Linked DNA regions of Homo sapiens: region 2 is linked to region 1. The links come from fine-mapping of genetic effects on gene expression. A gene starts in region 1. The other region holds a variant in brackets. All regions are shown on one strand. Distances are from middle to middle.

The links. PIP is the estimated chance that this variant, and not a neighbour inherited with it, causes the effect.
Region 2: its variant is fine-mapped to the expression of LIPA in skeletal muscle (GTEx, PIP 0.91).

What each region holds. Positions count from the first base shown.
Region 1 is chr10:89,246,879-89,259,731 of GRCh38, reverse strand. It overlaps LIPA (lipase A, lysosomal acid type), which reads left to right and starts at 7,957. Exons shown (of 10, transcript NM_000235.4): 1 at 7,957-7,995; 2 at 12,083-12,194. The coding sequence starts at 12,084. RefSeq lists enhancers at 7,871-7,930, 10,599-10,688.
Region 2 is chr10:89,218,397-89,234,934 of GRCh38, reverse strand. It overlaps LIPA (lipase A, lysosomal acid type), which reads left to right. Exons shown (of 10, transcript NM_000235.4): 4 at 6,537-6,735; 5 at 7,931-8,040; 6 at 9,707-9,843; 7 at 11,105-11,251; 8 at 12,353-12,424. Among named protein-coding and RNA genes, the nearest start is that of CH25H, 19 kb to the right of the region's middle. RefSeq lists an enhancer at 1-23. The variant TCCGCGAGAGGGCG/G (reference allele first, on the strand shown) is at 9,612.

The DNA of each region.
Region 1 (12,853 bases):
GTGTGCATCAGAAGATCATTATTCTTTTATTGCAGAGTAATATTCCATTGTATAGATACACCACAATTTGTTTATCCATTTACCTGTTGATGGGCATTTGTGTTGTTTCCAGTTTATGGCTATTACAAATAAAACTGCTATGATCATTTGTGGACAAACACTTTCATTTCTCTTGAGTAAATACTTAAGAGTAGAATAGCTGGGCCATATGGTAGATATACTTATAATCTTTTATCTAAAGTGATTGTACCAGTTTACATTCCCATCAGCGATGAAAGAGTTTCCCAGCTGCTTCACATCCTTGCCAACACTTTTTAATTTTAGCCATCCTGGTGGGTAGAATAGTGTTATCTCATTGTGGTTTTCATTTGCATTTTCCTAATGATTAATGGTGTTGAACATCTTTTCACATGTTTATTCATCATCCATATATCTTCTTTAGTGAAATGTCTGTCCAAATATTTTGCTCATTTTTGATCGGGTTTTTAGTTTTTAAGGAGCAGACCAAATCATTTTATAAAGTTAAAAAAACTTACTGAGATACAATCTGCATACCATTCAATTCACCATTTAAAGGGAACAATGGCATTCAGTATATTTGCAGAGCTGTGCAACTATCATTGCAATTAATTTTAGAACATTTTCATCATCCTAACTTCCTCTTCTTCCCCATCCTTTAGCCATCAACCCACCATCATCCCTAGGCAACTACTAATCTACTTGCTGTCTGCAGAGATTTGCCTATTCTGGACATTTCATGCAAGTGGAAGGGTCTTTTTTGAGTGGCTTTTTAAATTTGGCATAATGTTTTCAAGATTCATCCATGTTGTAGTTAGTATCAGTGCTTCATTTTTAAATTATAGAAGAATATTCCATTGTATGAACATATCAAATTTTATTTATTCATGTCTTCATCAGTTGATGAACATATGGTTGTTTCCACTTTTTGGCTATATTGAGTGATGCTCTTATGAACATTCATGTACAAGTTTTTATGTAAACATCAGTTCTTATTTCTACTGGGTATATACTTGAAAGTGCAGTTGATGGGTCATATGATAACTCTATGTTTACCTTTTTGAGGAACTTCCAGACAGACTGTTTTCCAAAGTGGCCACACCATTTCACATTTCCAGCAGCAGTGTGCAAGGGTTCACATTTCTCCACATCCTCATCAACACTTGTTATTACCTGTATTTTTTATTATAGCTATCCTAGTGGGTATGAAGTGGTATCTCATCATGGTTATAAAACGTCTTTTTTTTAGAAAAAAAAGTTATTTTACTTTGAAGGGGTCCAATTTGTTGATATTTTTTCTTTTATAGGTTGTGCTTTTTGTGTTGTATTTAAACAATCTTTGACAAAACTCAAATTTCTTAAGATTTTCTCCAATTTTTTTCCAGGAACTCCTATATTTTTAACTTTCAAATGTATGTGTATGGTCCATTTTGAGTTAATTTTTCTATGACTTAAGGGTCTAGGTTCATTGTTTTGCATATAGCTATTCAAGTGTTCTAGCACCATTGTTAAAAAGATTATTCTTTCCCCATTGAATTGTCATGGAACCTTGGTAAAAATCAATTGGGGGTCTACTTCCCAGTATTCAGTATTCTTATTCTTATTCAGTATTCTTATTTTTAAAAGGCAGCCTTAACTTAGGGCTGATCTTGCTCCAATACTGAGACAATAGTCTTATGAATCTTTTATTGAGTGCCTTCTGTGTTACAATGTTTTCCCACTCTGGCTGGTTGTAACTTAAACCATTCCAAGTTTTGTGTGAGCCTTGGGGATCTTACCGTTTGCAGGTGGTTCTTTCCACTAAACTATGGTCTAGCATAGTTTCTTCACATGCAAACTGTTAGTTAAAGACTTGAAGGAACCCATCTGCAGCTCGCCACAGCCTCTCTCTCTCTTCAGCTCTCTCTGCTCCAGCATTCTGCCCTGCAACTCTGCTGCCTTAAGAGAATTCCTACTGCCAGATGAGAATGCTTTTTTAATTCTCATTTTTCTCCTCTATTTAGATAAACTGCTGGATTTTGCTTGGATTTGGCCTCCCTAAACTACAGCCTGGAAAATCTGTCCAGGCAATTATCTGAGGCATTGCAGGGATCATTTCATTTGTTTTTCTTTTCTCAAGGATTGCTCTTTCTTTTGCACTATTTGTTGTCCAATGTCTGAAATTATCGTTTCATACTTTTTCCAACTTAGCTGTTTAAAGTAGGAGAGTAAACCAGGTCATTGTTACTCTATCTTTGCTGGAAGCAGAACTGCTATTAGTATTGTTTCTGTCTTTATTTCACCAGTCTGGCTTATGATATAAAGTGACCATCCCAAACACACATGTTCATATATGCACACACACACACACACCACTACTACCTCCTGTTTTCTATAAAACTTTCTTTTTATAGTTGTGAAAGTTGTCAAAATCAAAATGAAGTCCTTTATATTAAAGTCCTGGCAAATGGACCCATGGAAGGCCATAAAGGGAGTATTCTCACACATATGCCTGAAATTCAGAACTATCACAAAAGACTGCCAAAAATGCAGTCTTGCACAGAAAATACTTCTGCAAGGATGTCTATTCAGCAACTGTCAGTCCTTGGACCAATGCCACCCTTGTTATTGATCCTCGTAGCCAAGGACAATTGATTCAAAACAACTTATTTATTCTTTCTCATTTTGCCTTTAAAAACTTCCCCTTGTCTTAACTTCTTTAAATATGCACATAGTATAATATGGCACACTTATTCACATTGCAAACCTGAATAAATATCATTTTCTTATGTAGAGTCTCCTTTTCTCTCTTTATTAAGTTTAACTTGGAAAAGGTATAGGTCATCCACCAGTCACTGTGGCTCACAATGGCCCAAAGCAGGAAGTAGGAGAAATCTTCCCCTACCTGAGTGAAGGAACCTCGTGGTTATATTTTCATTCATTCACTCACGGATGACAACCTGGATTTAGTTTGCCTGGGTTGCATTTTGGGCTACATCACTTTTTACTTTTGTGAAATTGTGCTAAGCCCTCTACATACAGTGTCTCACTTAATCCTCAAGACTACCTTCATACACCCATTTTACAAGTGAAGACGCTGAGGCTTAGAAAGGGTAACTATATTGCCCAATGTCTGACACACAGAAATGCTGCTCAATCTGTTGCTCGTTTCTCAGTACTCACTTCACTTAAGCTGTCATTGGCACTTGCCTGGGCTGATCATTTCCTCTTTCATGAAATTTCTTTCTTCAGTTCATGTCAAGTACAACACACTCATTTCTCCTCCAACCTCATTGTCTTCTCAGCTTTTATATCTTCTGAATCTCTACGTGTGTTCTTTGCTACTTATGCTTACTTTATAGGGGATCTCCTCCAGCCTCATGTCTTTAAATACTGTTTCTAATCTGATTAGTCACAAATCATATCTCTAGCCTGGAGCTTGAATACATCTATATATCCTAGTCCCTACTCAACATCTCCATGTGGATGTTTTTCCAATCTTCTCCTTTTTGTTCCAAATCCTTTCCCTGTCCTACCTCTGCTCTGCTCTGTCTTGTGGAGGGTGGAGTGGTCTGACCTCTGCAGGCTCTTGTGTCAGCCACCTTTAGCCTGCCTAGGATCCTCAGAAGGGACTTGTGGAAGACTGAAGGAAGAAGGAAGAAAGAAGGGGAGGTCCAGCTATTTCTAGCTCCTCTCTTTCTTGGCCATGAGTAGTGTCTCTGACAGAGACTGTTGCTCAACTTCTGGTCTATGGTATGACACTTCCTTCATCCAATAATGCCCCAGCTCTTTCCACTGTTGCTAATAATTTCTGTGGTGCCACCCAAACCCTGTTTGTCTTCTCAGCAATGTCATTACCTGTGTAACCATGTCCTCTGTTTGCAATGCCTAGAGTGGCTTCTATTTCCTGACATGGCCTGAGTTGACACAGGTCTCTAAAAGGCATCTCAAAACCAACACATCTAGAACAAACTCCTAATTTCCCTCTCAAGTTGTTCTTCCTGGTAGTTTGTCCATTCAAATTCATGGCAACTCCATTAGTGCCATCCTTGATGCTACTGTCCCTCTCATACCTGTATTCAATCCACCAGCAAGTCCTATTGGTTCAACTTTATAAACATACCTAGAGCTGCCTATTTTTCTCCACTTTCACTGCTATCACCATCCTGGTCCAAGTCATTATTAACTCTCACTTGGACTATTGTGGTAGCCTTCTGATATGGTTTGGCTGTGTCCCCACCCAAATCATTATCTTGAATTGTAGTTCCCATAATGCCCACATGTTGTGGGAGGGACCCAGTGGGAGATAATTAAATCATGGGGGGCAGTTTTCCCCATACCTTTCTTGTGGTAGTGACTAGGTCTCATGAGATCTGATGGGTTTATAAGGGGAAACCCCTTTCACTTGGTTCTCATATCCTCTCATGTCTGCTGCCATGTAAGACGTGCCTTTTGCCTTCTGCCATGATTGTGAGGCCTCCCTAGCCACGTGGAACTGTGAGTCAATTAAACCTCTTTCCTTTACAAATTACCTAGTTTTGGGTATGTCTTTATTAGCAGCATAAGAACTGACACAGTAAATTGGTACCAGTAGAATGGGGTGCTATTGTAAAGATACCCAAAAATGTGGAAGTGGCTTTGGAACTGGGTAACAGGCAGAGGTTGGAACAGTTTGGAGGGCTCAGAAGAAGTCAGGAAGACGTGGGAAAGTTTGGAACTTCTTAGAGAACTGTTGAATGGCTTTGACCAAAATGCTGATAATGATATGGACAATGAAATCCAGGCTGAGGTGGTCTCAGATGGAGATGAGAAACTTGTTGTGAACTGTAGTAAAGGTGACTCTTGCTATGTTTTAGCAAAGATACTGGGGGCATTTTGTCCCTGCCCTAGAGATTTGTGAAACTTTGAACTTGAGGGAGATGCTTTAGGGTATCTGGGGGAAGAAATTTCTAAGCAGTAAAACATTGAAATGGTGACTTGGGTGCTGTTAAAAGAATTCAGTTTTAAAAGGGAAACAAAACATAAAAGTTCAGAAAATTTGCAGTCTGACAATACGATAGAAAAGAAAAACCCATTTTCTGAGCAGAAATTCAAGCTGGCTGCAGAAATTTGCATAAGTAATGAGGAGCCAAATGTTAATTACCAAGACAATGGGGAAAATGTCTGACAGGGCATGTCAGAGACCTTTGAGGCAGCCCCTCCCATCACAGGCCCAGAGGCCTAGGAGGAAAAAATACTTTTGTGGGCTGGCTCAGGTCCTCCCTGCTGTGTGCAGCCTAGGGACTTGTGTCCCAGCCTGTGTCCCAGTCACTCTAGCCATGGCAAAAAGGGGTTAAAGTACAGCTCAGGCCATGGCTTCACAGGGTACAGTCCCTAAGCCTTGGCAGTTTCCATGTGGTGTTGAGCCTGTGGGTGCACAGAAGTCAAGAATTGAGGTTTGGGAACCTCCACCTGTATTTCAGAGGATGTGTGGAAAAGCCTGAATGTCCAGGCAGAAGTTTGCTGCAGGGGTGGGGCCCTCAAGGAGAGCCTGGGCTAGGTCAGTGCAGAAGGGAAATGTGGGATTGGAGGCCTCACACAGAGTCCCCAATGGGGCACTGCCTAGTGCAGCTGTGAGAAGAGAGCCACTGTCCTCCAGACCCCAGAATGGTAGATCCACCGATAGCTTGCACTGTGCACCTGGGAAAGCTACAGACACTCAACACCAGCCTGTGAAAGGAGCCAGGAGGAAGGGTCCCCCTGCAAAGCCACAGGGGCAGAGCTGCCCAAGACCATGGGAACCCACCTCCTGCATCAGTGTGACCTGGATGTGAGACATGGAGTCAAAGGAGATCATTTTGGAGCTTTAAGAAATGACTGCCTTGATGGATCTGGACTTGCATGCGGCTTTTAGCTCCTTCATTTTGGCCAGTTTCTCCCATTTGAAACAGGTGTATTTATCCAATGCCTGTACCCCCATTGTATCTAAGAAGCAACTAACTTGCTTTTGATTTTACCAGCTAATAGGTGGAAGGGACTTGCCTTGTCTCAGGTGAGACTTTGGACTATGGACTTTTGAGTTAATGCTGAAATGAGTTAAGACTTTGGGGGACTACTGGGAAGGCATGATTGGTTTTGAAATGTGAGGACATGAGATTTGGGAGTGGCCAAGGGCAGAATGATATGGTTTGGCTGTGTCCCCACCCAAATCTCATCTTGAATTATAGCTCCTGTAATTCCCACATGTTGTGGGAGGGACCCGGTGGGAGATAACTGAATCATGGGGGCAGTCTAGCCCATACTGTTCTTGTGGTGGTAAATAAGTCTCACAAGGTCTGATGGTTTTATAAGAGGAAAATCCTTTTACTTGGTTCTTTCTCTCACATGTGCCGCCATGTAAGACAAGCCTTTTGCCTTCTGCCATGATTGTGAGGCCTCCCCAGTCCTGTGAAACTGTGAGTCAGTTAAACCTTTTTCCTTCATAAATTACCCAGTCTTGGGTATGTCTTTATTAGCAGCATGAGAACAGACTAATACACCTTCTAATTAGTCTCCCTGCTTCTGTAGTTCAGAATGATCTTTCTAAACTAGATTATGCTGCCCTTCTATTGAAAATATTACACTGGCTTCTCATCTTACTCAGAAGACACGGTAAGATCTTGACAAGTGGCTCCCAAGGCACCAGACTTCTAGGACTTCATGTTCTATTACTTTCTACTATGTACATTCTGTTTTAGCCTCAAAGACCTCACCACTCTGGCTAGGACCCACCAGGAATATTCCTACCACAGGGCCTTTGTACCTGCTATTTTCACCCAGAATGTGCTTTCTCCAGTATCTAAGGCTGTTAACTACCTCCTTGCCTGTGCTCAGGTGTCACTTCATAAGAGTCCTTTCCTGATTACCATATACATATCATCCTCCTTATCCCTGTTTTTTTTTTTTTTTGGGGGATGGAGTCTCACTCTGTTGTCCATGCTGGAGTGCAGTGGCATGATCTCCGCTCACTGCAACCTCCACCTACCTGGTTCAAGCCATTTTCCTGCCTCAGCCTCCCAAGGAGCTGGGATTAGAGGCACACACCACCACACCCGCTAATTTTGTATTTTTAGTAGAGATGGGGTTTCACCAAGTTGGCCAGGCTGGTCCTGAACTCCTGTCCTCAGGTGATCCGCCCTCCTCAGCTTCCCAAACTGCTGGGATTACAGGCGTGAGCCACTGTGCCCAGCCCCTTGTTGTTTGTTGTTGTTGTTGTTTGTTTGTTTTTGTTGTTATTTATAGCACTTATCACCACCTCATGTATTATATAGTTATTCATGATGTGTCTCTTCCCATCAGAATATATACAAGAGAACAGGAACCTTGTTTGGTTGGTTTCTATACCTCCACTGTCTTACTAATGCCTGGCATTTAGTAGGTGCTCAATAAAATCTTTGTTTTAGAAAATGATTAATAAATAATATGTACATATTGAATATTGTTTCCTCTTTTAACAAATCTTTAATAATAATAAAAAATTTAAAGCAGCAAGATTGCTTTGCATCAGGCACAATGATAAGCGCTTTAAATGGAGCCCATGATTCACTTTCATTTATAGAGCCCACATGCTCTCTGTCAGGCGCAGAAGGTGCCAGCCCTGCAGGAGCTTCGGGGGCGGAGCAGAAGGCCGCCTAAAACAGCCTTTGCTAAGAGAGCATGCGTAGGCGACGCGCTGGTAGAGCTGTGGACCTGCCAGCCTGCGAGGCGGAGGACGGGCTCCATCTCTTAGAAACGCCTACGGCGCATGCTCTATGGGGTCAACTGGGGGGCTGGCAAGCGGCAGCGCTGGTCTGGGGCGGAGTCTCCGAGGCACTTCCCGGTGGCTGGCTGCTCTGATTGGCTGAACAAATAGTCCGAGGGTGGTGGGCATCCGCCCTCCCGACAAGGCAGACCAGGCCCCCTGCAGGTCCCCTATCCGCACCCCGGCCCCTGAGAGCTGGCACTGCGACTCGAGACAGCGGCCCGGCAGGACAGCTCCAGGTGAGAGTGCCGGCGCCGCGGCGCTGCCAGGTGCGGGTGCGGCGTGGAAGCTGGTGCCTTCAGCAAGGGGAGGGTCGCGCCCCGAGGCTCTGCCGGCCGGCAAGACCCTCTGCGTTTGGACCCAGCGAGTCTTGCCTGGGGTGCCTGCGGGTGCTTTTTCTGCGGGCGTTGGCTCAAGGCATCTGCCAATCAACCAGGGCAACTTCAGAGAGCAACTTCAGAGAGAAGCCCACTCTCTTCCCTGGGCGCTGTCCACTTTCCTGGACAGGCGCGGTCTCCGGTCAGTGAAGCTGCCCAGTGCTCCTGGACCGCGAGGACAGCAGGGATGTCTGATTCCTCTCTCTGCATCCTCGTGCTCTCCCCTTAGCTCCTCCAGGCATCCCATCCTACCTCTCTTGTTAGCCAACGGCGTGGTCGAAAGCAGACTTGGGCATCAATCCTGGTTAAAGTCCCAGCGATACTGCTTTTTAAACAGCTGACACTTTGCTTCCAGTACTTCAGCTGGGTGAACCTCAGATTCCTGAAAAATGGAATTAATGGTACTGCCATAGGGTCGGTGGAGGAGTAATTGACAGTAGATCAGAAGCGCTGCCTGCGGTGGCTGGCGCCTCGCAAGAGCTTAAATGGGAGTCGTAATAATTGTTGTTATTAGAAAGTTAAATAGCATGCTGCGTTGGGGCCTTTTCTTCTGCCACTGAACTGTTGGACTGCTCTTATCTTTTTTCAGAATCTGTACTATGCATCTAATATATACGTGGCACTTTGCTTGGTCCTGGGGGTACAAAGCTGAGTCAGATTGTTACAAAGTCTAAATAACTGAGATAAAGGTGTTAATACAGCCCAGAAAAGCACACTTAATTCAGCCTGGAAGGTTTTTTTTCCCCCCTCCTTCGAGATTTTCAGAGTATCTCCTTCTTAGTAAGAATTGCTTGGCTTAGTATGTTGAGAAAAACATACTAAGTATGTAGTGTTGTGTTGGAAGGAAAACTTAACTGGGTGAGATTTTCAGCTGAGTAGCTTTAGCTGTTACTCTCATGGACCTTCCTCTGGGCGGTTGATACAGGTTCTGTAGGAAAACCGCTGAATGAAAGCAGCTCCTGCAGATGCTATTCTGTTTTCAATTGTGGTAATTCCTTTAATTTTTTCCCTTTCAATTTACTCCTTATTCTCTAGTAATAATGGACTTTTGGGAGGTTGCATTTATGATAAAAAATAGCCTGGGGCTGTACAATCCTTCCTATCATGAAGAAGTACAAAGTTGTAAGTAGAAGCAGTGGCCTTGCTTTGCCAATGCACACTGAAGGGGATAACGTTTGCTCCTGTTCAGAGTTCACGGTCGGGCGCGGTGGCTCACGCCTGTAATCCTAGCACTTTTGGAGGCCGAGGCCGGCGGATCACGAGGTCAGGAGATCGAGACCATCCTGGCTAACACGGTGAAACCCTGTTTCTACTAAAAATACAAAAACAAAATTAGCCAGGCGTGGTGGTGGGCGCCTGTAGTCCCAGCTACTTGGGAGGCTGAGGCGGGAGAATGGCCTGAACCCAGGAGGTGGAGCTTGCAGTGAGCCAAGATCTCGCCACTGTACTCCAGCCTGGGGGACAGAGCAAGACTGTCTCAAAAAAAAAAAAGAAAGAAAAGAAAAGAAAAAGAAAAAGAAAAAAGAAAAAAGAAAAGAATTTCAGAGTTCACTACTTCTTGGAAAAAAATAATCCCAGGAGGAATTCCATCAACAGAAGGGAGTCAGTTCACTTTTGCAATCTCCTGAGAATCAATTTCTTAAGACTTGTGGAATATTCAGTTTAAACACAAAACTAAAAACAAACAGCTGTATTGGAGTATTATTGACATACAATAGCATGGCATATTTCAATTGTACAATTGTATAAGTTTTTGCATGTGTACACACCTGTGAAACCATCAGTACATTCAATATTATGAACCTGTACATCACCTCCAAAATATTATTTGTGCATACCCCTTTGTGATCCTTTCTTACTGCCCCTTCTCTCCAGGAAACCACTGATCTGCTTTCTGTGAATATAGATTAGACTGCATTTTGTGGAGTTTTATATGAATGGGATCAGACAGTACTTTTTTTTTTCCTTATTTTGATCTGGCTTCTTTTGGCATAATTATTTTGAGATTAATCTATATTTTTTTGTGTTCCTTCCCTTTTATAGCTGAGTAGTAGGTATATACCATAATTTATCCAATCATCCATTTAAAGCATTTGGGTTTTTCCAGTTTTTGTCTATTACACCCAAAGCTGTTATAAACATTTATGTACAAGTCTTTGTATGGGCATACATGCCTGCATCTTTTTAAGTGATTCTATTTATTTTTTAAAAATGTAGAAGTTCTGGGATCTAGTCCTAGGTTTTTCTCTGACCACTTGCGTGATCTTAGGAGAGGCATTTAACTTTGCCTTCAGCATCCTCAAGGTCTTTGCTGTGATTTTGAGTCATCACTGCCAGAAACCAAGATGGTCTTTGTTGATTTGATGGTTAGAGAATTTCAGAAGGAGAGAGACGGGTCAAATTTTTCCTTTCTGTTTCTTTTGAAAGCTCTATTTTCTTTCATTTCACTTTTTTCCCATGAATGACAAATTTAAATGCTGACGTATAATTTGGGGCAAGAACAGAAGTGGTTAGATAAGTAGGAGGAAGAGCTAATAGTGGTTAGATAAGTAGGAGGAAGAGCTAATAGTGGCTGAACTTAAACATGTCTAAATCATAGGTGGAAGGCAAGAGGTGGGAAATAAGCAAGCTCAGAAATTTTGTGTCTCTTTCTTTTTCTCAAACTATCCTCTTCTAAGTCTTGCCTTTTGTTATTTCTCCATGACCAATTTGTTTTTAACTTTGGGGTTAGGAGGTGAATGGGTATGCTGGACTCCAAAGGTCATATATCAACTGGAGGTGGTGGGTGGGAGGTTTCTTAGTTAAAAGTAATTCCTTTGGGCCGGGCGCGGTGGCTCACGCCTGTCATCCCAGCACTTTGGGAGGCCGAGGCGTGATCACGAGGTTAGGAGATCGAGACCATCCTGGCTAACACAGTGAAACCCCGTCTCTACTAAAAAAAAAAAAATACAAAAAAATTTGCCGGGCGTGGTGGCGGGCGCCTGTAGTCCCAGCTACCTGGGAGTCTGAGGCAGGAGAATGGCCTGAACCTGGGAGGCGGAGCTTGCAGTGAGCCAAGATTGCGCCACTGCACTCCAGCCTGGGCGACAGAGCGAGACTCAGCCTCAAAATAAATAAATAAATAAATAAATAAATAAATAAATAAATAAATAAATATAAAATAATAATAATAATAATTCCTTTGGGAGGCGGAGGCGGGCAGGTCACGAAGTCATCTGAGACCAGCCTTGCCAATATAGTGAAACCCTGTCTCTACTAAAAATACAAAAATTAGCCGGGCATGGTGGCCTGCACCTGTAGTCCCAGCTACTCTGGAGGCTGAGGCAGGAGAACCGCTTGAACCTGGGAGGCGGAGGTTGTGGTGAGCCGAGATTGTGCCACTGCACTCCAGCCTGGGCAACAGAGCGAGACTCCGAAAAAAAAAAAAAATTCCTGGGCAGGCGCGGTGGCTCACGCCTGTAATCCCAGCACTTTGAGAGGCCGAGGTGGGCGAATCACGAAGCCAGGAGTTCGAGACCAGCCTAGCCAATATGGTGAAAGCCCATCGCTACAAAAATACAAAAATTAGCCAGGCGTGGTGGTGCGTGCCTGTTGTCCCAGCTACTTGGGAGGCTGAGGCAGAAGAATTGCTTGAACCAGGAGGCAGAGGTTGCAGTGAGCTGAGATTGCACCACTGCACTCCAGCCTGGGTGACAGAGCAAGACTCCATCTCAACATAAATAAATAAATAAATAAATAAATAAATAAATAAAATAAAAATAAATAAATAAAATTTAAAAATTCCTTATTCTCCTTTCAGATATGGCTGGAGTCATTTGTTTCATATTTTCCTTTCACCTTTTACTTGCCCTAAATCTGGTTCAGAACTTTTTGTGGGAGCATTAAGTTACCAGAATATTTTTGTGTAGTAAAATTCAAGCAAATAATAATAGACTGTTTTATTATACAGAATGAAAATGCGGTTCTTGGGGTTGGTGGTCTGTTTGGTTCTCTGGACCCTGCATTCTGAGGGGTCTGGAGGGAAACTGACAGCTGTGGATCCTGAAACAAACATGAATGTGGTAAGTTTCTCAAAGTTATGTACTTTTAAAATGCATCTATTTCCCCGATCCAGTTATGTGAGCTACATGAAGCCATACCCATACATTCATCTCTTTATAACTCCTTTGCTTTTCAATTTCTCTGAATTTTTTTTTTTTTTTTTTTTTTTTTTTTTTTTGAGGCAGAGTCTTACTCTGTCACCTGCCCGCCCAGGCTGGAGTGCAGTGGTGTGATCTCGGCTCATTGCGACCTCCGCCTCAGGGGCTCAAGTGATTCTCGAGCCTCAGCCTCCCAAGTAGCTGGGACTACAGGCATGCACCACCATGCCTGGCTAATTTTTTTTGTATTTAGTAGATACAGGGTTTCACCATGTTGCCCAGGGTGGTCTTGAACTCCTGAGCTCAGGTGATCTGTCCACCTCAGCCTCCCAAAGTCCTGGGATTACAGGCGTGAGCCACCGTGCCCAGCCCAATTTCTCTGAATCTTAGATTCAATTTGCTAGGCTTTTCTCACCAGGTAATATGTAGCCAACAAACCTCAGTTTAATGTTATATATACTTCTTAATAAGATAAATTATGATTTTTTATTAATTCATTTCATTTTTAAGTCTCACTAAGTTTGTTTAAACTATAAAAAAGTATTTAAACTTTGCAAGAACATTACCGCTATTGAGAGCTG
Region 2 (16,538 bases), 27 kb after region 1:
GGGCAAGTTACTTGACTTCTTTACCACAATTCCCTGTTCTGTTAAATGGCAGTAGTGCCAACTTCAAAGGATTTTCAGTACAGTACCTACAGCATACAAGCGTGCAATCGGCGCTAGCTATCATTTCAATCAGCTGTTCTCAGCAAGGTGAAGTGAAATCTGAAATAGTTCACTGGAAGATGTGAACAGCAATAGGTTTTACCTTCCCAGAGAGAAACATCCTTTGCCAGTCAATCCTTAAATCCTTCTTTGGTGGTGGGATGGGAAAGAACCACATTGTACCTTCCTTTCTTCCCCCTGGTGGGAGCAGGTGAGAGAAGCTGGCAACAGTTGGCTGGGCCTGCTTCCAGCGTCCAGTCTTTTCCATTCCCTTTTGTATTCACCCAATGCCAGAGGGAAGGGGCAAGAGGTTTGGAAGCCATTTTTAAAGGTTTTTCACCCGAGGATTCGATACTATTTTCTTTGCTGAGGATCCGTCATGCCTAATGGAACTGCCATCTCTAGAAGTTCAGTAAGTTATATCCTCTGCATCTCCCTCCTCAGAAGAGACTTTTTTGTTCTGGGATGAAAGGAAACTGGCCCAGCCTGGAAAGATGTGCACCCCATGAAGTCCTTCCTATTCCCTGTGTCCCCAGGTCAGACAAGGCACTGGACTTTTCCTAGTGGTTCCCCAGCCTGGCTGCGCGTCAGAATCAGGCAGGGAGGCTTTCATGTGCACACTGGTCCCATCTGGCCAAGGCCTGGGTGCAGTGTCAGCTCTTTATTCATCTGGCTCCTATGTTTTCTCCAGAACCCTTTGTGGAAACATCTGTCTCTTACTTAGAATCCAGGTCAAATGTTTGTCCCACTGGCCAAGTAACTTTCTCCTTCTTCTGGGACTTCCTGAGTGGTGTTCTAGCCTTCTTCTTGCTGGGTTAGACAGTCATCGTGTGTCTGACTCCCTCGAGGATGGAGCTCCCTGTGGGAGGGAGTGTGGGTTACCCATCTTTGCATTCCTAGCATCTATTAGTTTGGGGCAAAAGTAATTGTGGTTTTTGCCATTGCTTTTTTATTTTGTGGGGGGTGGGGGTAAATGGAATCCCTCTCTGTCACCCAGGCTAGAGTCCAGTGGTGCGATCTTGGCTGACCACAACTTCTACCTCTTGGGTTCAAACAATTCTCCTGCCTCAGCCTCCTGAGTAACTGGGATTACAGGCACCCACCACGAGGGTTTCACCATGCTGGCCAGGCTGGCCTCAAACTCTTGACCTCAGGTGATCCACCCGCCTCGGCCTCCCAAAATGCTGGGATTACAGGCGTGAGCCACCGTGCCCGGCCTGCCATTGCTTTTTAAGGGCAAAAACCACAATGACTTTTGCAACAACCTAATAGCAGTGGCTGGTACTCAGTAGGCACCACTAAAGGTTTGCACGAAACGTAATGTATGTTTTCAAATCACTTCTTGATATTTTACCTTCTAGTGCACTGCTTAAGATACAGCAGATTTCCATTAAAAACTTTTCACCTGAATGTGGAGGACACAGCTGAGTGGCCTCCATTCTCTAAAGCCATGCCATTTGTCAGACGTTTACCTTTCTTCATCAGCCCTTTTCCTCATCTGCCAGCATTTCCCATGAGAAAACAGTGTGGTCTGCAGTACCCTTTGCAGTGCTTGGCCCAGATTCTCCAGATTTGAAAACATTTAGCTTGTAAAGAATAGATTCACTGTTTCCTTCCCATCTGCTGCATCTTTTGTGCCTGTTGTTCATTGAGCTTTTGTATTCAGCTTGAAGTAGGGGATGGAAGAACCCTAACAAACAAAAAAGGACAATTAGAAAAATAGTGTCTTTGACTTATTCTCTGGAAGCCTCCTTCAAAGGATAAAGTAATTCCCTGAGAAAAGCGTTGTGCAGGTGTGAATTCGGTCTGGGTGGAACAAGGGTATTTACCGATGTTCTTAGAAGCTGCACAGCCACCTTAGGCGTGGTCTCCTGGGTAGCACATGCTCCAGCTGTCCACAGGCCATTCCTTTCTTCACACTCACCTCCCAGGAAAACTGCAGCAGCTCCTCATTGCCCTTGGGAATCCAGGAGTTATTTATTGGGGATGTTTAAAGACTTTCCTGATGTATCTTCAACTTGTCAGCTTCCACATTTCCCCATTCAAAGCTCTAGAGGTTACAGAGGGAAGTACAGAGACTTTAGGGAAATTTTAAACATTCTCCATCGAGAGAAGGTGGGGAGCTGAGTCCTGGTCCCATGTGCTGGCCAACATCTCCCCTTCCAGCCTCTGTCCTGGCCTGGCTGCCACATATCACCCTCCTTCTCCTCTCTCAATTATCCTTGCCCCAGGGCCCTCTTTGGTTTCAAACCATTCCTGCCTTTCTCTGGACACTCTCCCCTGAGGAGTAGACTAGGCAGTCCCATGTTTTCCGTGTTAACTACAGAGGCACAGATTGGAACAAGTGCCAAGGAATTAGGCCACCTACCGAGCCTTCCTCTTGCCTCTCTCTGACTCTCCATCCTGAGGGAAGACGATTGCAGTCGTTTTTGTTGGAAATGACCTGACCTGTGGGAGCAGCCCGTTCCTGGCCTTTCAAAGTCAAGTCACCTTACTCATGGCCTAGCTCCTGATCACTCCTGGTGGGTGAAAAGTGCCTCAACATACCTAAAGAGCTGTGACATGAGCAGGAAAGCCCCTCTTTCTAGAAAGTGTTGGGCACCATCAGTACAGCAGAGCCACTGCATCGTACAGCGCCCGGTCACCATTCTCACGTACAGTTACCATGAGATGATGATGGTGCCTGTAGTTACACATTTTTCAACTATAATTTAATGATAAATTAATTTTGGTAATTATAATTGTCACTTACACTGCAGTTTATAATTTTGGATTTTTAATGATCAATTTTCATATTTTCCCAGCTGGATTATCATCCTCTTCATTGAAGCCAAGAAGCCTGTGCATAAGACGCTGTATCTACCACAATGCCTTCCACTTACATTTTTCGTAGTAAATTTAGTCTTGTTAATATTGCATTAAAATGAACCTTTGAAGGCAAAGATGAGCACATAAAGCAGCCCTAATCTTGTCCAGTTTGCTTTCTATTTTCTCCCCATGGGTAGAAGTTCACCTGCATGGCCCTGGCATTTCTATTTTGTGATTAGAAAATCACACCAGCCATACATGATGTTTCACTTCTGTAATCCCCGCACTTTGAGAGGCCAAGGCGAGAGAATCACTTGAGGCCAGGAGTTTGAGACCAGCCTGGGCAACATAGTAAGACCTCATCTCTATGAAAAGTTTTTTAAAAAATTGGCTGGATGTTGTGGTACACACCTGTAATCCCAGTTCTTCAGGGGCCTGAGGTGGGAGGATCACTTGAGTCCAGGAGTTTGAGGCTGCAGTGAGCAGTCATGCCACTGCACTCCAGTCTAGGTGATAGAATGAGACCTTTTCTCTCTTAAAAAAAAAAAAGTTATGGGAATCATTTTATACTCTTGGCCTGGGGTCCTGCTATTTTAACAACACGAGGGTATAGCACCCCCAGGTTGTACAACTCCAGGGAGTACCATGTATATTTTCATGTATGTGAGCAGTGCCTTCCGGAGTAGTCTACGGAAGCTACCTTGCAGCAGAACTGTCATTTAAAAACAATTTGCTAGTTATCAAATCTATATTAGGACATTAGCAGAAATGAACATTTGTCAATTCACTTATAGTCTTATCATCTGGACAAATCATTCTTCTCATTTTTCCTTGGTATTTTACACTCCTCTTTGGTGTACATTAATTTTGCACAGCTGTAATTTAGAGTAGTCTATAATTTTGTATTTTGCTTTTTTTTCCTTTGCAAGGTATAAGCTTTTCTATGCTGTCACTGTCCTTGTCATGGTTGATGGATAATTATTATACCAAGTGGATTTCAATGAATTATTTGACCACTTGACAATTAGCTTATTTCCAGTTTTTCACTGTTATAAAGAATGAGCAGAGGGCAAAGGAAGCTCTCATTTGTTCACTGTGACCCGTGTGTCAGTCACTATACTGGATACTTACCTCACTTATTCCTCTTAACAATTATTTTTGGAACTGAGACGCAGACTGGTTAAGCAACTTAATAGTATGAGTTGATATATAGTGAACTCTTACTGTGTGTCAGACTCTTTGCTACCTACTTTTCATATAATATCTCATATCTCACTGTGTCCTATAAAATGTGTATTATCATTTCTACTCTTCAGGGAATTATATTAATTTTAGGAGATGTTTCCCCAAGGTGTCATGTTAGAACTTGGAGAGGACAGAGTTGAGCCTAGGTTTGTTTGAGCTGTCTAAAACTCATGATCGGGCTGGGCGTGGTGGCTCACACCTGTAAACCCCGCACTTTGGGAAGCCGAGGTGGGTGGATCGCTTGAGTCCAGGAGTTTGAGACCAGCCTGGGAACATGGTGAAACACTGTCTCTACAAAAAACACAAAAATTAGCTGGGTGTGTTGGTGCACGCCTGAAATCCCAACTACTCAGGAGGTTGAGATGGAAGGATCACTTGAGCCCAGAAGGTGGAGGTTGCTGTGAGCAGAGATCACGCCACTGCACTCCATCCTGGGTCACAGAGCAACATCCTATCTCAATCAATCAATCAATCAAATAAGTGGATAAAACTCATGGTCAGTATAATGTCAGCTCCATGGAGGTACTTTTTTTCCTCTTGTTTTTGTTCTCTGCTGTGTTCTCAGTGCTGAGAAGAAGGCCTGGCACATAGTTGGTACTCAATAAAGGCTTGTTTCATGAATAACTGAATGGTCTCAGCGTTAGGTAAGCAGCTTGAGGTCAGGTTTCTTTGGCTCCCACATCTTTGTTTTTTCTGCTATATCACTGTCTCGGGTACAGGTGAGTAGAAAATAAATTCTCACAGGCAGACACAGACACATATATTTATGAATTTGTGTGTGTGAGCCTTTTTATCTATTTAACTTTTATTCAGCTTTAAAAATTTTTATTAAATTTTATTTTTTAAAGCAGTTTTAAGTTCATAGCAAAATTGAGTGGAAGGTACAGAGATTTCCCATACACCCTCTGCCCCCACACTCCCCTGTTATGAACATCCCTCACAGAGTGGAATTGTAATTGTTACAGCTGATGAACCTACATTCACACAAAGTCCGTAGTTTACATTAGGGTTCCCTTTTTTTTTTTTTTTTGAGACTGAGTCTCCCTCTGTCCCCTAGGCTGGAGTGCAGCAGTGCAATCTTGGCTCACTGCAACCTCTGCCTCCCGGGTTCAAGCAATTCTCCTGCCTCAGCTTCCTGAATAGCTGGGATTACAGGTGTGGGGCACCACACCCAGCTACCTTTTTTGTATTTTTAGTAGAGACAGGGTTTCGCCATGTTGGCCAGGCTAGTCTCGAACTACTGACCTCAAGTGATCCACTCGCCTCAGCCTCCCAAAGTGCTGGGATTGCAGGCATGAACCACCACACCCGGCCACTACAGTTCACTCTTGATGTTGTATATTCTATAGTTTTGGACAAATGTATGATGGCATGTGTCTACCTCTATAGTATCATGCAGAGTAGTCTTACTGCCCTGAAAAATCCTCTTTACTCTGTCTATGAATTCCTTCCTCCCTCCTAACCCCTGGCAACCAGGATCTTTTTTACTCTCTCTATAGTTTTGTCTTTTCCAGCATGTCATATAGAATGCAGCCTTTACAGATCTTGGTAATATGTATTTAAGGTTCCTCTACATCTTTTTGTGGCTTGATAGCTCATTTCCTTTTAGGGCTGAGTAATACTCCATTGTCTGGATGTAGCACAGTTTAGTTATGCATTCATTTACTGGAGCACATCTTGGTTGCTTCTAAATTTTGGCAATTATGAGTAAAACTACTATAGACATCTGTATGCAGGTTTTTGTGTAGATGTAAGTTTTCAACTCCTTTGGGTAAAATACCAAGGAATGTGATTGCTGGATTATATGGTAAGAGTATGTTTAGTTTTGTAAGAAACTGCCAAACTTTTCCAGTGTGGTGCTACCAGTTTGCATTTCCACCAGCAATGAATGAGAGTTCCTGTTCCTCCACATCCTCTTCAGCAGTTGGTGTTTTCAGCGTTTTTGGATGTTGCTCATTCTGATACGTGTATAGTGATGTCTCATTATGTGTGATCTTTTTCTTTCCTTTTGTTTATTTTGTTAGGAATTATTGTGAGAAATGCAATTACGAAAGCAAATTGTAAAAACATTTTATAAGAAAAAAATTGTAAAAACATTTTATAATTTCTTAAAAATATATTGATTTTTGTTTTTGCTGCTTACATAAGTGTGTCTTGTTAGTGGACATGCAAAAAATGGTCCAGTTTCACTGCTACCTTGCCAGTGCTGTTTTAAAAAAATTCTTTACTAACATTATATGTGAGTACATCACTATGTCAATCTTTCAATTTATTTCTAGTTCATTATTTGCTTATGGATCTTTTACGAATGTTCTATTTAGCAAGATATCATATTTGTTTTGAAGCTTGGTGCTACTGCCTCCTAAACAATGAATGTTTTTCAGGTCCCAAACCAGTTGTCTTCCTGCAACATGGCTTGCTGGCAGATTCTAGTAACTGGGTCACAAACCTTGCCAACAGCAGCCTGGGCTTCATTCTTGCTGATGCTGGTTTTGACGTGTGGATGGGCAACAGCAGAGGAAATACCTGGTCTCGGAAACATAAGACACTCTCAGTTTCTCAGGATGAATTCTGGGCTTTCAGGTATATATGAATTGATAATGGCATGGATGTATTTCCTTAGTACTCTTAAAGCAGACAACAGGCTTCCAGCAGAAGAGGTAGATAGGTGGTAACTCTGAAGTTGTATGAGAGGGGAAGTTAGTGTCTTTTGAAAGGTTTTAAATGTTGCTAGGAATTTAATGACTAGCAGTAAGGTAAATTATAAGTAAATGATTACATTAAGATTTACATTTAGTTAGGAATTCTTAAGTTACTTCGGCATTTCTGGTGGTGTGGGTGCTGCTGGGTAAACGTTATTCCATAACTTTCCTCCTTTCTCCATAAATATGTAATCCAGATGTTCACTTTTCTTCTTTCCAGAAATTATCCTTTCCTCCCTCTTCCTTCTGGCTCCACCAGTTAATTGCTGTATGACATTGGACATCTTACATAAGCCTCCTGTGTCTCGGTTTCCTTATTTGTAAAATGGAGCGTAATAAACACCTACCTCATAAGGTCACTGGGGGCTTAAAGGAGAGGGTGCAGAGAAGGAACCTCCACAGAACCTGGCACCTTGTATGAACTGGCTAGGGGTTGGCTCTTCTCCTGCCAGTGGCAACATGCGCATGCATATACCCATACGCACACTTGGGTTTTGGTCTATGTTTTGGTACCAGGTATTAGAGAAAGTCAGCAGCACTATAGCAGCCTCCGGGCTTGCTTCCCATTTTTAAAACCAGAGGCACCTCTAAGGACATGAAACACAAGAATGAGAGCTTTTAACAAAAGGCATATACAAGAATTGGTTTATTGTCACGCTATTTGTAACAACGGAAAACAGGAAACTACCCAAATGCATGTCAGCAGTGAATGGATAAAGTGTTGTATATTTATATAGTAGAATAAGAATGAACAACTTACAATTATATGCAGCAAAAAATGGATTAAGCCAGATACAGGAGAATACACATTGTATAATTCTACTTACAGAAATATTTAAAAACAGGCGAAACTAATTTCTGGTGTGAAAAATGAGGACAATAGTTACTTTTGGGAGACACAACTGGAAGAGAGCCCAAGGGGGCTTCTGCAGTCCTGCTGGTGTTGTTTCCTGGACTCACTGCTGGTTTTCCCAGCTGTGTTTAGTTTGTGATAACTCATCAAACTGCATACTCAGTATGTGTGTGCTCTATTTTATGTACTATTTCAATGAAAGAGTTCCTTTCTTGGATTACAGTTATGATGAGATGGCAAAATATGACCTACCAGCTTCCATTAACTTCATTCTGAATAAAACTGGCCAAGAACAAGTGTATTATGTGGGTCATTCTCAAGGCACCACTATAGGTATGTATGTAAATAAGATCAGAAGTTGATATAAATTCTTCATTACAGAGTTTGTACTTTTCTTAAAAGTGAAATATAAAAAGATGTTAGTTCAAATTCCATTTATTTTTAAATGCCAAACAGAAATAATGAATAAGATAAGGAATGTTGGTAACATTTAGTCTTCTATGAAAATTCATGTATATGGTTGAAATTGAAGAAATTAATGTAAGCCACAATATATTACATGTTTTCCTAGATGAAGCAAGATAGGGATGTGAGAGAGTAGAAAACAAGTAGTTTCTAAGTTCAGAGACTTACATAAAGAAAACAAGAAAATATACTGCCTTCTGAAGTTAAGTGGAATATAACTAACTACAGGTACATTTGGTTTACAAAAAATTTTGAAAAGTTATATGCATTTTAATTTATGCTGATTATATAAGTAATGCATGTTCACTGTAGAAAAACAGAAGAACAGAAGATTTAGCAAAATTAAAGAAAATAAAAATTGCCCATAATTCTAGTCAGCAAGAGTTTTTGTAATTAGGGACTAGGAACCTGTCCTATAATTTATTTAATTCTCCCTTTTAATGTTTACTATGACTAACACCTTAGTGTTCCCATCACATGCTTTCCTTACAATATATTCCTAGAAGGAGCCTTACTATATGAAAGGTATGAATGTTTTGAAGGGTCTCAAAACATGTGGTTATATTGCCAGGAAAAAAATGGAGTTAGGCATTTTTCTTTATTTATATTTCTTCTTTCATGACTTGCCTGCTTGGGACCTTTGCCCCACTGCTTCCTAAAGTGACATTCTGGGGCCAGGTGGCAAGACGTCAGAGAGGGTTGTATTAATTCGTTTTCATGCCACTACTAAAGACATACCCGAGACTGGGCAATTTATAAAGAAAAAGAGGTTTAATGGACTCACAGTTTAATGGATTGTGAGCTAGGGAGGCCTTACAATAATGACGGAAGAGCAAGGAACATCTTACATGGTGGCAGACAAGAGAGAGTGAGAGCCAAGTGAGGGAGTTTCCCCTTATAAAACCATCAAATCTCAAGAGACTTACTCACTACCACAAGAACAGTATGGGGGGAACCGCCTCCGTGATTCAATTATCTCCCACCAGGTCCCTCCCACAACACATGGGAATTATGGGAACTACAATTAAAGATGAGATTTGGGTGGGAACACACCCAAACCATATCAAGGGTTAAAATATATTTTAAAGCTAGGGGATTCTAAATGTGTGAGTTCCTTTGAAATCATTGGTGGTTTATTTCAACGTGGTGTCTGTAAATTGTTCTTTGGGGGAGGGGCATGGGGGAGATAAAGGTGATGGGGTGAGGCTCTTGGAAATAGTCTGTTATTTACATTGTAAAAGGAACTGGGAAGATTTTCTGATTCTCCCAGACTGGATTTCTTCCAGTGCTTATCTAGGTTGAGATTTGGAGCAAGCATTAACAAATGCTTGATTTACTAGTTTAACCAAATTCAGTGTTAGGGCACACGGAAGTTCAGAGTGCCCCATGTCAAGTGTTTTGGCTCCTGCTGGTGGTATTGTTTGCGTGGGTCTCAGGCC[TCCGCGAGAGGGCG/G]TCGCGAGTGACGGCCTTTGTGTTTTCTGAGAAGGAAATCCCAGATGATGGAATTCCTGTTTTCTGTCCTTTGTTCTCACAGGTTTTATAGCATTTTCACAGATCCCTGAGCTGGCTAAAAGGATTAAAATGTTTTTTGCCCTGGGTCCTGTGGCTTCCGTCGCCTTCTGTACTAGCCCTATGGCCAAATTAGGACGATTACCAGATCATCTCATTAAGGTACTTGGACCCCTCCCATCCCTCTCCTCTCCCCGCAGATTTCCTCCTGAGATCTGAAGAAATGGCAAGGGGAGGGATAATCTGTGCCTTCCTCCCCTGCGTTTTGATATCAGTGGAGCAGTGGGCTTTTCTTTTTCCGTTTACCCCTCCTTCCAGACCCAGGGGTGGCCGGGGACGCCTGTCGTTTCCTGCACACTGGTGCCACGTGTACTCATGGTTAGCATGTGTCAGTACAGCTCTGCCCACCTCACAGGGAGAGCAAGGAGAGTCTGGGAGAAAATAATTTAAGCATTTGTGGAGTTGCCCTTTATCCCATGAGGTGAGCCTGTGCACAGAGGATGTAGGAGATGGGAGATAGGAAATGTTCCCAAAAGCCCATCCCTAGCTACACTGAGGGTGACCTAACAACGCTATCATTATTGTATTTTATAATATGGCTCCTAAACACAGCCAGTAGCTTCATCAGGGCTCTGCCCTAAAGCTGTGGCACCCGAACCTCTGTTCAGGGAGGAAATAGATTTCATGAAAAAGAGTTTTAAGCTAGGTAAGACCAGATGTTCTATTATGCATGCATTATATGTCTTTTATGAAATATATGTTCACACACACACATATGAAATCCTGTATAGAAATATATACATGAAATGAGGTATAACGTCTCTCATGGGCCATTTAGAAGACTTAAATAGGAAAGATGGAATCTCCTAGGCTTAGGCAGTCCTTCTGCCTTGGCCTCTCAAAGTGCTGGGATTACAGGCATGAGCTACCATGCCTGGCCAATAAAAAAAATTTTAAAAAACAAAATAAAAAAGCAAGCGATGGGCTGGATTTGGCCTGCTGGCCAGTAGCATTGAATTAGATGGGCACACCTCTGGCAGACATTACTGATCAATCACAGCCTTGACTGTTTCTTAGAAGTAACCACCGATCCATCAGAGTCAGATGAAAATTACTTGGGGATGGCCCTGGGAGGGGTGATCATTAAGGCCCTTTCCCACTGTAGAAGTCCGCTGAAAACTTATTTGATTTTCTGCCTCCTTCTCTTCATTTGGAGAATTTAAATACACCTCTGTAGTGTGTGATTTTTGCTTTGGTAAACTTGTGCAAAAGCATCCTGATTTGATGTCCACTGGTTGCCATTCTCTCCTGAGGCCATTCGTGGAGACATTGGGTACTTGTCTCTGCTTCTGAGGTGAGTCACGGAGACTTATGCACCAGAGTGAAATGCTGAGATGTTCTTGGGTTTCTTTTTATTTTGTAGGACTTATTTGGAGACAAAGAATTTCTTCCCCAGAGTGCGTTTTTGAAGTGGCTGGGTACCCACGTTTGCACTCATGTCATACTGAAGGAGCTCTGTGGAAATCTCTGTTTTCTTCTGTGTGGATTTAATGAGAGAAATTTAAATATGGTATGCATGTTTATAGTAAGATTTGATTTTTTTTTTTATCTGTGAATGTGCTTATTTGTGTTGAATGATATGGGAGAGGTGGGAATGACCTCATCAGAACTCTAAAGAGTCTTTCATTTGAGAGGCACAAGCATGAACTTTGGCCAATGCCTAGAATACGGTACCACCTGCTGCCATCCTCAGGCTGACTGTGGTCACCTTCTTATGTTGTACCTAGATGGAGATTATTGAATGAGGAGATCTGTCACAAATTAAGCTGTAATATTTATAATTACTCTAGTGATTTGTTTCTTTTAGAAATCATTATAAGTATAAACATAAAGATGGGAACAATAGACAGTGGGGACTCCAAAAGGAAGGAGGGAGAGGGACAAGGGCTGAAGCCTGTTGAGTACTATAGCCAATATTGAGTACTGTGGTTATGGGATCAATAGAAGCCCGCATCTCAGCATCATGCAATCCACCCTTGTAACAAACCTGCACATGGACCCCCCGAATCTAAAATACACAAATTTTCAAAAATTACTATAAGTATTTAAATTTGGAACGGCCATTTACATACACATAAGTGTATGCTTGCAGTGTGTGTGTATTTATAAAAGTACATTTTATAAAATGTAAACCCATTTTATTTTATAAAATATAAACCCTTGGCCAATACTATGCCCGTGTTTCTAAATATGTTTGTTAGTTTGTCATGTGGCATTTTGAAAAAAAGGGTTAAAATCCTGGAATAAAGGCCCTAAGGAATTTCAGTGCCATTTTTCTTTTGTCTGATAATTAAAGCAAGGTGTGATTGTTATATGAAATTTGGGAAATTCAGGAAAGCATGAAGAACAAAATGAAAATGCCCTGTAAACGAAACCCACACAGTCCCGTGCTTACCATGTTGTTGCACCTCCTTCATATGGACTTTGTATGTGGTTGTATGTATTTTTATAGGGCAGATTTTTAGTCAAATAATTTTTTTCTACCTCTCATCTCACATACTTGAGATTATGGCTCTAGTTTTTAGTGCTTTGAAGGGCAAAATACAATGTTTATTATCAATGCCACCTTAATGCTGTTTTCATTCTTCATTTCAATGTATTTATTTTGCAGTCTAGAGTGGATGTATATACAACACATTCTCCTGCTGGAACTTCTGTGCAAAACATGTTACACTGGAGCCAGGTAGGCATTCCAGGAGTGCATTTGGGGTTCATGTAAAATCAACATCAGAAAGGTCTGGGCATGCAAACCCTTTCCAAATAGAAAGACAACCTGCTTACAAATCTGATCTGGTTTTCTTCCCCAGAGTCCTGGGTTTTTGTCATCGTGCTTGTGTTGCTTTTGATACCTGTGGTGGGGCACACTGTGTTATACGTGGGTTCACAAACAGCTACTGGGGTTGACATTTTTCTTTTCCCTCCTCTCCCTTCCTCAAGTCTCAGGTTAATATATTCTCTCCCTTTCCTTCTCCCCCAGCTTTCTTTTCCTCCTCCTGTTTCCTCCCCTCCATCTGCTTCTCATTGAGTCCTAGATTTTTTTTATTTCTGTGTTGCTTCATAAAGAGTGATTTTAAGTCCGTTTTGGAGATAGAAACCGCTGTTTCAACACTAACCCCTGATCACAATATGCTTGGAATAGCAGTGAATAAACTGGAGCTAAACCAATGATAGATGTGAATGGGGGCCCCTGACTTTTGAAATACAGTTTTGATTATTTTATCATGTAAATAAGTCATGTTCATTCTAGAAAATTTAGAAACTACATCTAGAAAAAAATTATCTTAAAATGAAAATAAAATCATTCTATAACCCTAGACAGAGAGGAAATGCATATCCATAGATATTGAATGTCTCTGCATTCTATTCTATACCTCTTTTCAAAAAGATGCTGTTAAAGACATGGATAGAAATAGTAGATGTAGAAATAGATTGATTTTTCTCCTGCTTACTGTTTTACAGCTTGCTTTTCTTTTTTCACCTGACAATATGTCAGGGACTTCTTTCTACCTCAGGACATAATTTTGTGCCATTTATTTTTCAGCTAACTTCATTTTTAATATGAAACAACTCACCATTTAAGCCCTAAACCAAGACACTGTAGGTGTCTTGAATAGTAATTTCCAAACACCTGGCAGTCACTGCTTGCATCAGAATCACCAAATTGCTTTAAAAAGTACACTATTTAATAAATCATTGCATTAAAAAAGTAATGAGAGTTGGAATTATAGTGGAATTCTTGGATTGGCTACCATCCAGGCTTATAAAACAAATACTCCTGTGTCCCAATCATTTGGACTAGAGAATCTGTACTTTTATTTTTTCGTTTTATTTTATTTTTTTGAGATGGACTCTCACTCTGTTGCCAGGCTGGAGTGTAGTGGTGCGATCTTGGCTCACTGCAACCTCCGCCTCCCAGCTTCATGTGATTCTCCTGCCTCAGCCTCCCGAGTCGTTTTATTATTTTAAAAAAAAATTTTTTATTGAGGTATAAGTGACATAGAATATTTAAAGTATACAATTTGATATATTTCAGTGTTTGTATACACCTGTGAAACCATCACCATAATCGACACAGCAAATATATCATCATCCTAAAAGGTCCCTGCTGCCCCTTTGTGATACCTCCCCCCATCCCTCCCCTCAATCCCACTGATCTGCTTCCTGTCATTGTAGCTTAGTTTGCATTTTCTAGAGCTTGCATGAGAACAGTCATGCAGTTTATACTTGTTTTTGTCTGGCTTCTTCCACTCAGAATACTTGTTTTGAAATTTTCCTATGTTGTGTATGTCAGTAGTTCATTCCTTTTTATTTCTGAGGATCTGCATTTTTAAAAAATCTGCCTGGTAGATTCTTTTGCTCCACCAGGTTTGGGAGCAGACCTGTTCGGGACATCCTGATACTTTCATCTCCTTCTTCAGTTGCCCCAGGAACTCTAACAGTGCTATAGTTCTCCTTTCCCTGGGGCTCGTCTCTAAGGAACTAGGAAGAGCCTGGCCTGAGGCTCCTGGTCCTTTATAGTAACTAGAAGGCTGAGAGTTAAATGTCAGTTCCTCAGGGGCAGAGTTTGTTGTGGCCTAAAAGAGGGGCATCTGGAATGCAAATAGTTCATGACGTGCTGAACAGCACATGCTTACCACTTAAGGAATGCCCCCAAACCTTCAAAAATCCTCAAATTCACAAAGATTGAGGATTTTCGTTCTTGGTTCAGGTCTCTGCTTTTCTCCTTGGTCACATTTATGCTTATAGTCACTTGTTTTCTTCATATACCCTGTCACTAGAATTCCCCTACATTTTTGAGGATGCCTAGGACCTCTTACCTAATGGACATTTTCCTAAAAGGCCCAATGTCTGTCACCTCATCAGTTATTGCACCCCCAGAGATGATGGAGGGTGACTGAGCTGGCTGGAGGCAGATCCTGAGCTTTCCCACCAGCTTAGTGACTGCCAGCAGCCCACACACAGTACACGCCAGGCCTCAGCAAAGTACAAATGGCCACCAGACCTGGGATGTCAGAGGCCCTTGGGAATGTTGAAACCAAGGCTGTCCTAGGCCAACTCTATTTTATATTACAGACCTGTGTTGCTTCACCCTTCTGTGTCTTGGGCCTCCACTGGGCATGGGGTTTGCAGTAGAGACATTGGATCGGCTATCATCTAGGCTACTGGTCTTGTTCCAGCCCTCTTATCCAGCAGCTTGCCAGGGTCAAAGGCTGCAGGGTGAGGGCCAGAGCACTGCTCTGTGCCCCATTTGTGACCTGGTGACTTTAGATTCTAACTACCCTGGAATATACCTCCAGAATATTTGCAAAGCCCAGATTTGCTGTACAAGGCAGCCTGGGCCTTTGCTCTTCTACCCGCTGTACCATCTTTTGTCAGTAAAATGGTTGGTTGCTTTGTGCAGCCATTGTATCGGATCTTCCCTTTGGCTTTCCCTCCTCTGGGCTGTTGGCCAGGGGCTGCCACTGGTGCAGGCTGCAGGCTCCAAGAGGCAGTGCAGGAAAAGGCTTCTGTGGAAGCTGGGCAGGCCTGGATGCCGGGCAGGCTGGGGCTAGAATTCAGGTGTGGCATTAGAGGGCTCTTATGGTATGAGTTTGGGGTTGACCTTAAAGGCCATTTTGTTTACAGTCCATTCAGAAGTTTACTTTTTGTTTAAATAATTAGGATTAACTTGTTAATAAATTCCATACCTTGTTCTTTAGCGGGATTTTAAATATAGCATACTCATCTTTCCATTCTCCTTATAAACCTGATGAATTTCGGAGCTCCCCAGAGCCAAGACTTGATATTACTTCTCACTTTCTCACTGGCCCTGCCCAGAGCCCAGGTACTCTCACCTGTTTGAAGAAGGCCATCCCAGTGTAGTTTTCCAGTGTTGTTCTGACCTACCTAAGGTGCTATTAAAAATACTGGTTCTTGGGCCTGTCTGAGACCTGTGGAGACTCTGAATTCCTAGGGCTGTGACCCTGGGATCTATGTTTGAGTTAAGTGCCTTAGATGATTACGATGTGCTCTTTTTTTTTTCTTTAAAGGAAAAAACATACTTTTGGTAGGCTTTTAAAGAACACTGTAAAAAGGATATTCAGTATAATTTTTGTTAAACATGTAATATGTTTTATGAAATTTTAGAAAATACATGAGTGAAAGAAAAATGACTTGTATGTCTAGCACCCAGCAATAGCCACTATTAATATTTTGGTATAATCTTACAGTTTTGTAATATAATCATTTCCATTACAAAAGTCAGATCATACTACATCTGCTTTTATGTAAATTTTCATTTAAAGAAATGCCATTATATTTGTTAGATACAAGTTAAGCTGTTGTATTAGAGACCCCAAAATACAGCTGCTAAATAAAGAGTTTATTTCTTTCTCATAATAAAGTTCAGAGAGAGGTGGCCCAGACTGATGATAGAGGGGGTTTTGGCTGTGTTCCATGAGGCCATGCAGGGACCCAGTTCCCTCCATACTATAGCTCTGCCATCCTCGGGGTGTTGTCCTCTTCTGCCTGGTTGCAGCCCGGTCACCTCCATGTCTCTTCCAACTCACAGGAAGGCAGGGGAGAGGGAGCTCAGGGCAAGTGACTTTGTGCGAAGGAGATAGCTTAGAAGTGAGCGGTATGGCCATAGCCTGGCTGCTCGCAGGAGGATGAGGATGTGGTTTCTATCTTGGCAGCCATGTACTTAGGGAAAGCTTTAGGGATTCTGTTACTGAAAGGAAGAAGGCAAGAATGGGAATGGGTGGCAGTCTCTGCCATAATTAAAAATGCCTTTCCGGGTCAGTAACTAAAGTTTTAAA